2 separate regions of the Homo sapiens genome follow, and region 2 is reported to be linked to region 1. The links are microRNA targets in miRTarBase. Many come from high-throughput screens and were not tested one by one. Region 1 holds a microRNA gene; the other region holds the end of a gene's coding sequence.
The links. Region 1 holds the annotated microRNA hsa-miR-320e (AAAGCUGGGUUGAGAAGG, at 1,972-1,989, opposite strand). A microRNA usually pairs through its seed, bases 2 to 8, with sites in the 3' UTR of a target mRNA and lowers its output. Matches are read on the target gene's strand: a 7mer-m8 pairs with bases 2 to 8, a 7mer-A1 pairs with bases 2 to 7 and ends in A, and an 8mer does both.

Region 2: miRTarBase lists DAD1 as a target of hsa-miR-320e. The part of its 3' UTR that is shown has no 7-base or 8-base seed match.

What each region holds. Positions count from the first base shown.
Region 1 is chr19:46,707,323-46,711,713 of GRCh38, forward strand. It overlaps MIR320E (microRNA 320e), which reads right to left and starts at 2,032; the gene lies at 1,960-2,032. PRKD2 (protein kinase D2) reads right to left here. Exons shown (of 18, transcript NM_016457.5): 3 at 3,585-3,716. RefSeq lists an enhancer at 2,527-3,345.
Region 2 is chr14:22,571,138-22,575,528 of GRCh38, reverse strand. DAD1 (defender against cell death 1) reads left to right here. Exons shown (of 3, transcript NM_001344.4): 2 at 296-470. The coding sequence ends at 426. Among named protein-coding and RNA genes, the nearest start is that of DAD1, 16 kb to the left of the region's middle.

The DNA.
Region 1 (4,391 bases):
GGGCCCAGCGCAGTGGCTCATGTCTGTAATCCCAGCACTTGGGGAGGCTGAGGAGGGTGGATTACTTGAAACCAGCCTGGCCAACATGGTGAAACCCCGTCTACTAAAAATACAAAAATTAGCCAGGAGTGGTGGTGCGCACCTGTAATCCCAGCTATTTGGGAGGCTGAAGCAGGAGAATTGCTTGAACCCAGGAGGTAGAGGTTGCAGTGAGCCAAGACCACGCCACTGCACTCCATCCTGGGTGACGGAGCAAGACTCTGTCTCACACACACAAAACAATGGAGCCACAGGGTCTCATCACAGAATGGATGGTCCTCACCTGTCATCTGTCCTCATAGCCAATGCAGGTACATGGCCTTCATCTGTAGGCAGAGCCCCGATTTCAACATTCTCACTCAGAAGCATGAATAACAGGGACAGAGGACCTATATAGATCTTGACACTTGGGCTGAACCTTGAGACATCTTGGCTTAAAGAACTGTATGTTTTGGACAGGCGCGGTGGCTCATGCCTGTAATCCCAGCACTGTGGGAGGGCAAGGCGGGTGGATCATTTGAGGTCAGGAGTTCAAGACCAGCCTGGCCAACGTGGTGAAACCCCGTCTCTACTAGAAATACAAAAATTAGCCGGGCAGTAATGGTGTGTGCCTGTAATCCCAGCTACTCGGTAGGCTGAGGCAGGAGAATCGCTTGAGCCTGGGAAGTGGAGGTTGTGGTGAGCTGAGATCGCGCCACTGCACTCCAGCCTGGGTGACAGACTGAGACGCTGTCTCCAAAAAAGAAAACCTGTATATTTTTAAACTATGATTTAAGGAGATATGTATGGGTGCTGTTATGGACTAAATGTCTGTGTCTCCCCCAAAATTCTTATGTTGAAACCCTAACCTCCAATGCAACTATATCTGGAGACGGTGCCTTTATGGAGGTAATTAAGGTTAATTGAGGCCGAAAGAGTGTGGCTGTAATCCAATGGGACTGGTGACCTTTTTTTTTTTTTTTTTTTTTTTTTTTCTGAGACAATCGTGTTCTGTCACCTAGGCTGGAGTGCAGTGGCATGATCACGGCTCACCGCAGCCTCAACCTCCCAGGCCCAGGTGATCCTCCCACCTCAGCCTCTTGAGTAGCTAGGACTAGAGGTATGCACCACCATGCCTGGCCAATTTGTTGTATTTTTTAGAGACGGGGTTTCACCATGTTGCCCATGCTGGTCTCGAACTCCTGGACTCAAGCGATCCACCATCCTCCCAAAGTGCTGGGATTATAGGCATGAGCCACCATGCCTGGCCTTCCTTATAAAGGGAAGAGATACCAGGGATCTCTCTCTCCGTGTCCCATGTGAGCGCACAGTGAAATGATGGCCCTCTGCAAGGCAGGAAAGCAGGCTACACCAGAAACAGAACCCTGCCAGAATCTGGATCTTTGTCTTTCCAGCCTCTCACAATTCCAGGGATTTTGAGAAGTAAATGTCTGTCATTTAAGCCACGCAGGGTGGTATTTTGTTAAGGCAGCCCTGACAAACTAAGACAGGTGCCAGGTTGACAAGAGATGGACCCTGATAGTCATGTTAATGTGTCAGCTTGGCTAGGCGAGATCCACAGTTATTCAGACACTAATCTAGATGTTGCCATGAAGGTTGGTTTGTTTGTGGTTTTTTTTTTTTTTTTTTTTTTTGAGACGGAGTCTCGCTCTGTTGCCAGGCTGGAGTGCAGTGGCACGATCTCGGCTCACTGCAACCTCTGTCTCCTGGGTTCAAGTGATTCTCCTACCTCAGCCTCCCAAGTAGCTGGGACTATAGGCACATGCCACCACGCCCGCTAATTTTTGTATTTTTAGGAGAGATGGGGTTTCACCATGTTGGCCAGGGTGGTCTCAATCTCTTGACCTCATGATCCGCCTGCCTCAGCCTCCAAAGTGCTGGGGTTACAGGTGTGAACCACTGTGCCCAGTCAAGGTTTGTTTTTTCTTTTCACCTTCTCAACCCAGCTTTTCCCCGACTCCAGGAAGAACTGGGAAGAGAAGGCCCCATGGAGGTATTTTCTTTTCTTTTCATTTTTTTGAGACAGAGTTTTGCTCTTGTTGCCCAGGCTGGAGTGTAATGGTGCAATCTCAGCTCACTGCAAGCTCTGCCTCCCGGGTTCAAGAGATTCTCCTGACTGAGCCTCCCGAGTAGCTGGAATTACAGGCGTCCACCAACACGCCGGCTTTTTTGTATTTTTAGTAGAGACGGGGTTTCACCATGTTGGACAGGCTGGTCTCGAACTCCTGACCTCAGGTGATTCACCTGCCTCGGCCTCCCAGAGTGCTGGGATTACAGGCGTGAGCCACCGCACCCGGCCCAGTGGAGGTATTTTCTGGATGTGATGAAAATCCATAATCAGCTGACTGTAAGTGGGAGAGGTGATCCTGCTTGTTCTAGGTGGGTCTCATTCAATCAGCTGAATGTTTTAAAAAGCAGATCAGAGACTTTTCGGATGAAGAAATTCCACCTGTGGACATCAGCTTCAGCTTGTGCCTGAGTTCCCACTTGCCCTTCCTGATAGGATGGATTTTTTTTTCTTTTTCTTTTTATTGTTTTGTTTTTGTTTCTGTTTTCAGAAGGAGTCTCACTCTATCACCAGGCTGGAGTGCAGTGGCACAATCTCGGCTCACTGCAACCTCCTCCTCTCAGGTCCAAGCAATTCTCCTGCCTCAGCCTCCCAAGTAGCTGGGACTACAGGCGTGTGCCACCACGTCCGGCTAATTTTTTGTATTTTTAGTAGAGACGGGGTTTCACCATGTTAGCCAGGAGGGTCTCAATCTCCTGACCTCGTGATCCACCCGCCTCGGCCTCCCAAAGTGCTGGGATTACAGGCATGAGCCACCGTGTCCGGCCTTTTTCCTGTTTTTGAGCCAGGGTCTCGCTCTGTCACCCAGGCTGGTGTGCAGTGGTGCAATCAGGGCTCACTACAGTGTCGAGCTCCCAGGCTCAAGTGATCCTCCCGCCTCAGCCTCCCAAGTGGCTGGGACCACAAGTGTCTGTCACCATGCTTGGCTAATTATTTTTTGTACAGGCAGAGTCTTGCTATGTTGCCCAGGCTGGTCTTGAACTCCTGGCCTCAAGTGATCCACCTACCTTTGCCTCCCAAAGTGCTGGGATTACTGGCCTCCCCCACTGTGCCCAGCCAGATTTGAGTTGCCTAGCCAGCCCACACAATTCTGTAAGCTGATTCCTTGCATATAAATATCTCAATATATATCTCCTCCTGGATGTTTCTCTGCTTGATCCCTAACTGATAGAGGCCCCACCCTCTTCCCCCGCCACCCTTCTGCTCCCCTAGGCTCTGTTCTTAAGCCCCTACTTGTCCCTCCCAGCTCCACCTCCTAGGCTCCGCCCCTAGACCTGAGCCCCGGCCCAGCCCCACCACTCCTTCCCCAAGCTCTGCTTCTGGGCCCATCCTTCTTCCCATTATTACTTCCTAGGCTGCGCCCCCAGCTCTGAGACCCGCTCCTCCTCCCCACGCTGTCCCCGTGCCAGGACCATTACGCTCCGCCCCCGGTGCAGAGCCCCGCCCCAGGCCCCGCCCCCAACCCTTTAGCTCTCACCATCGCACTTGAGGCCCTGGCGCACTAGGCCGAAGAGCATCTCCCCGCAGTGATCACAGAAGGCAGGCGCCCGATAGGAGTGCACCGTGAGGGCGTGCGGGCGGATCTGGAAGTCCTCGAAGGTGGCCGAGGCTGTAGGCGGAAAATAGGGGTGGATGCTTGAGGCGGGGTAGGCCAAAGCTTTTCCAGACCCCACGTTCCCTGATTTCTCACAGTGCTCCCAGCCGCAAGGTGTGATCTTTCCTTCCTTCCTTCATTTGCTCTCATACTACATTCTGCCTGGGTTCAAATCCCAGCTCCACCCCTGAACAAAACACATATATCCCTACGCCCTGGGCAGGGACAGAGCGGGAATTGGGGAGTTGTTTAACGGGCAAGGAGCTTCAGTTTCGCAAGATGACAACAGTTCTGGAGACCGGCTGCACAACAGTGTGCGTGAACTTTAAATTACTGAACTGTACGCTTAAAAGTGCTTAAAATGTTGTGGGCTTTTTTGTTTGTGTTTGTTAGAGAGTTTCACTCTGTCACCCAGGCTGGAGTACAGTAGTGAGATCTCGGCTCACCACAAGTCCGCCTCCCGGGTTCAAGCAGTTCTCCTGCCTCAGCCTCCAGAGTAGCTGGGATTACAGGCATGCGCCACCACACCCGACTAATTTTTGTATTTTTAGTAGAGACGGAGTTTCACCATGTTGGCCAGGATGGTCTCAAACTCCCGACCTCAGGTGATCTGCCCGCCTCGGTCTCTCAAAGTGTTGGGATTACAGGCGTGAGCCACTGCACCCGGCCTAAAATAGTAATTTTTATGTT
Region 2 (4,391 bases), not on the chromosome of region 1:
CAACTTACTTGTGCAATTCATCCATTTTTGTGTATAGCAGAAGTTCTTTTTCATTGCAGTATAATATTCTATTGTTTGTATATGCTATAATTTATCCATTTTACTGTTGATAGACATTAGATTGTTTCCAGTTTGGGGCTATCTGGGTATCATTTCTGTGTATGCCCTTTGATGTATATATGCATTCATTTCTGTTAGAGTAGAATTGTTGGGTCCTCGGGTATGTCTGTGTTCATTAGCATATTTATTTTATACTTCTATATAATCATTTTTTTGTGTTTTGCTTCTTGTGCAGTTTGCCTGAGAATACAGATCAACCCACAGAACAAAGCGGATTTCCAAGGCATCTCCCCAGAGCGAGCCTTTGCTGATTTTCTCTTTGCCAGCACCATCCTGCACCTTGTTGTCATGAACTTTGTTGGCTGAATCATTCTCATTTACTTAATTGAGGAGTAGGAGACTAAAAGAATGTAAGTGATGATCATAGTCCTTGTCCTATAATGTTGATTTTAGGAAGAGAAATTGGATGGGACTGGTTTTGATCATGGTTGGCCAGGCTCCCATACTGCTATTGACATTTGCAGAATTTTCCATTGGTCTGCAAAGTATGCATTAATATCATCATAATTCATCAGTGCTACTGCTCTTGGTCATTGCCTTGTCTTTCTGTTCTTCAAATCATTAAGGTAATAGAAAATTAATGTTTGTAGCTAGTACAATAATTTCTGTACCAATAACTCCACGAAAATAACTCGGAGATTTTGGAAGAGACATAAATGGTAGGTTTTGCCTTTAGATTTGTTAGTTAATTTTTTTCTGATTTTGATCTCAGATGACTTTTAATGCTGGACCATTGTTTTCATAGCACTTAAATTTGATAGCATCCAGTGTATGTTGGATGAATGACTGTGGGCATTTGCTAATATGTGCCTTAAAGTAGAAATAAATGGGGAAATTGGGTTAACTTGGGAGAAGACTTTAAAATATAAGATGGGATGCTGCTTGGTTCATTTGCCATTTTCACTTTTTTAGCAGTAGAGTTCTTTCTCCCTTCTCCCAAACAAACTCTTACAAAAAGAATCTTGGTATATAAAGCAGAAGTAGAATTGGAGTTTTTTTTGATGGACAGAAATTGAAAAGCCCTCTCTGCTTGGCCTTCATCACATATGGTACGCCCTCCCCTAAATCGCTCCCTCCCAAGCAGAGTTCTAAAGCTTTAATAAATATATGGCTGTTTTCCATACCGTATGTCAACACTGTTACTTTATATATGAGACAACAGAGGCCTAGAACAATCCATTGGCCTTCCCTGGCCACATAGTTAAGTGTTTGCAGTGAAGTGCCCTAGTCTAGCGGTGTTCTTGGCCCCGTACTCCTTCCGGTATCCCATGTAGCTTACTGATGAATGCATGCAATCTTTGCCTTTGCATTGCAAAATGTAATGTTCTGGGTGGTAGAGAAAAGAGAACCTTAGGAGATCTCATCCTATTTGGGGGAAGGATATCCTAGGACCAACCTCTTCCTGTCACCACTTGGAAAGCTGTCATTTTTATACTAACCAGCAGAAATCTAGTATAAGAGTTAGAGCATCTATGTGCAAAGTGGATGCAATAATGTGGAAGTGACTATACTTCCTTTTCTGACATGAATTAGTCATTTACTTATAATATGTTACCTAAATCCTTTCCTTTGATACTGCCTCAAAAACAGTTCTGTTAGTTCAGGTAAGGTATCATTTTGGTAGTGGTAAGTTGACAGTGAGGTTTATTTCAGTGAAAAACTTTTTTTTTTTCTTTTCTGTTTTTTTTTTTTTTTTTTTGAGATGGAGTCTCGCTCTGTTACCCAGGCTGGAGTGCAGTGGTGCGATCTCGGCTCACTGCAGACTCCGCCTCCCGAGTTCATGCCATTCTCCTGCCTCAGCCTCCCGAGTAGCTGGGACTACAGGCGCCCGCCACCACGCCCGGCTAATTTTTTGTATTTTTAGTAGAGACGGAGTTTCACCGTGTTAGGATGATCTCGATCTCCTGACCTGGTGATCCGCCCGCCTTGGCCTCCCAACAGTGAAAAACTTTTAAGAACCACTTTGTTCTGTTATTTTAATACAATTTAACTCATTAGACACCTGATTAAGACTTGAGTTATCCTCTTCCTCCCTTCCTCCCTCCCCTTCTATGTGCCAGCCAATGTCTTGTTGTTGGGAATATAAACAATATTGTTGGCTGGGCGTGGTGGTTCATGCCTATAATCCCAGCACTTTCGGAAGGCGAGGTGGGCGATTGCTTGAGCTCAAGAATTTGAGACCAGCATGGGCAACATAGCAAGACCCTATCTCAATTAAAAAAAAAAACCCAAAAGTGTGGCTTCTGCCTTCAAGACATGTACAGTCTAGTAGGGGAGAATACGTAAACATAACAGTTAAAATACAGCCCATTTAGGGCCTCGCTATAGGTTTGAACAAAGTGCTGCAAAAATCCAGAGAAGAGAGCAGCTGTACCATCTGGGAGCAGGGACAGCAGATGAGTTATCTGAGCAATGGATAACAGCTATTGCTAGTTAAAATGAACTGTTACCAGTGGATAACCTTGAATGCAGGTAGAAAACTGACCCACCAACATTGACCTTCTCACGCTTGCAAATATGAGTAACCCTTGGGCTTCCTGATAGAGCCTTCTGGAAAGGTCATGTCTTCTGATTGCTTACTCTAGATTTCTGAAGTTCTTTTTTTCTAGATGAGTCATGGTGTGTACTTAGGAAGGGGACACAGCAAACATTTCAAGGATGTTTTCTAGGCTCAGGGAGATACCAAATCATGGAAAATTATTTCTTAGGGCTGTCATGATTGGAGGAAGACTCTACTGCAGAGAGCTTAGTATTTCAAAATTATGACAAAAGCAAAGACAAAAAAGCAGTCTCAGCAGAAACTGTGTACTGCAGACCATATTAACAACCTAGGACCACCTGCTCAGCTGGGAATTATGGGCCCAAAGCATAGCAAAATCCTCAATCCCAGATTGCAGTGTTAAATCTTTCTATGGAGAGTATGTTCATAGAAAAATCTTTCTCTCTGGGGGATTGCCCAGATTGTTTTTCATAGAGATCCTTCATTTGAATTATACTATACTGTCCTGCTCTCAGTTTTTAAAAATATACATTTATTTGCTCCTTTTATGTGCTTCTAACTCAGCTATATGTGCACTGTGCCACAGCACTTTAAAAATAGTTCCAAGTAAATTCTCAATATTTATACCAGCTCAGAAGGTAGAACAAAACAGATTGAATGTCTTTATATTTTCCAACTAAGTTGAGAGTTTGATATTAAAAAAAAAATTCTGTAATATAGCTGATCTTACATGAATTTGGGGGTGACAAACTCTAACCTACTCTGAAAGAGGCAGGTCAAAAGAAAATGGCATTGGGTTAAAAAAATAAACAATTCAAGGGGAAGTAAGGAAGTTAACAGATAATGAGTGCTCAGTGTGTGCTATGCTTTAAGTACTTCTTGTTCTATATCATTTTATTTTCAGAATAATTTCACGAGGATAGGCTTGCTGTTCTCATTTACAGATGAGGAACTGAAGTTGAGAGAGCCTGGCTAGGATGGCTGAGCACGGTGGCTGATGCCTGTAATCCCAGCATTTTGGGAGGCCGAGGTGGGTGGATCACCTGAGGTCAGGAGTTTGAGACCAGCCTGGCCAACATGGTGAAACCTCGTCTCTACTAAAAAGACAAAAATTAGCTGGGCGTGGTGGCCGGTGCCTGTAATCCCAGCTACTCGGGAGGCTAAGGCAGGAGAATCGTTTGAACCCATGAGGCGGAGGTTGCAGTGAGCCCGAATTGCACCATTGCACTCCAGCCTGGCAAGAGTAAGACTCTGTTTTCTAAAAAAAAAAAAAAAAAAAAAAAGAGCCCCTTGCTAGAAATCTTACAACTAATGTATCTATCCAGGTGATCAAGAAAGACTCAATATTTTTTATTTTTTAGACTATACAAATGAAAATACAAAAGCAAAAATTCTCCCAGTGAGCTTCTGACCCCCAGAAATCCATGCACACCTGAAATGATCAGTTTTTGTTGTGTAGGTGGCGGCATATTTTTGAATGAATCCATGACAGAAAGAAGCTCAGTGGATTTCAGTATTTAAAAATGTATATACTTTAGTTTTTTCCATGTTTGTTCTTCTGTGTTTCTTTGTGAAATTCTTTTTTTTTTTTTTTTGAGACAGAGTCTTACTGTCTTGCCCAGGCTAGAGTGCAGTGGTGCAGTCTTGGCTCACTGCAACCCTGCCTCCCGGGTTCAAGCAATTCTCCTGCCGCAGCCTCCCCGAGTAGCTGGGACTACAGGCACTTGCCCGGCTAGTTTTTGTATTTTTAGTAGAGATGGGGTTTCACTCT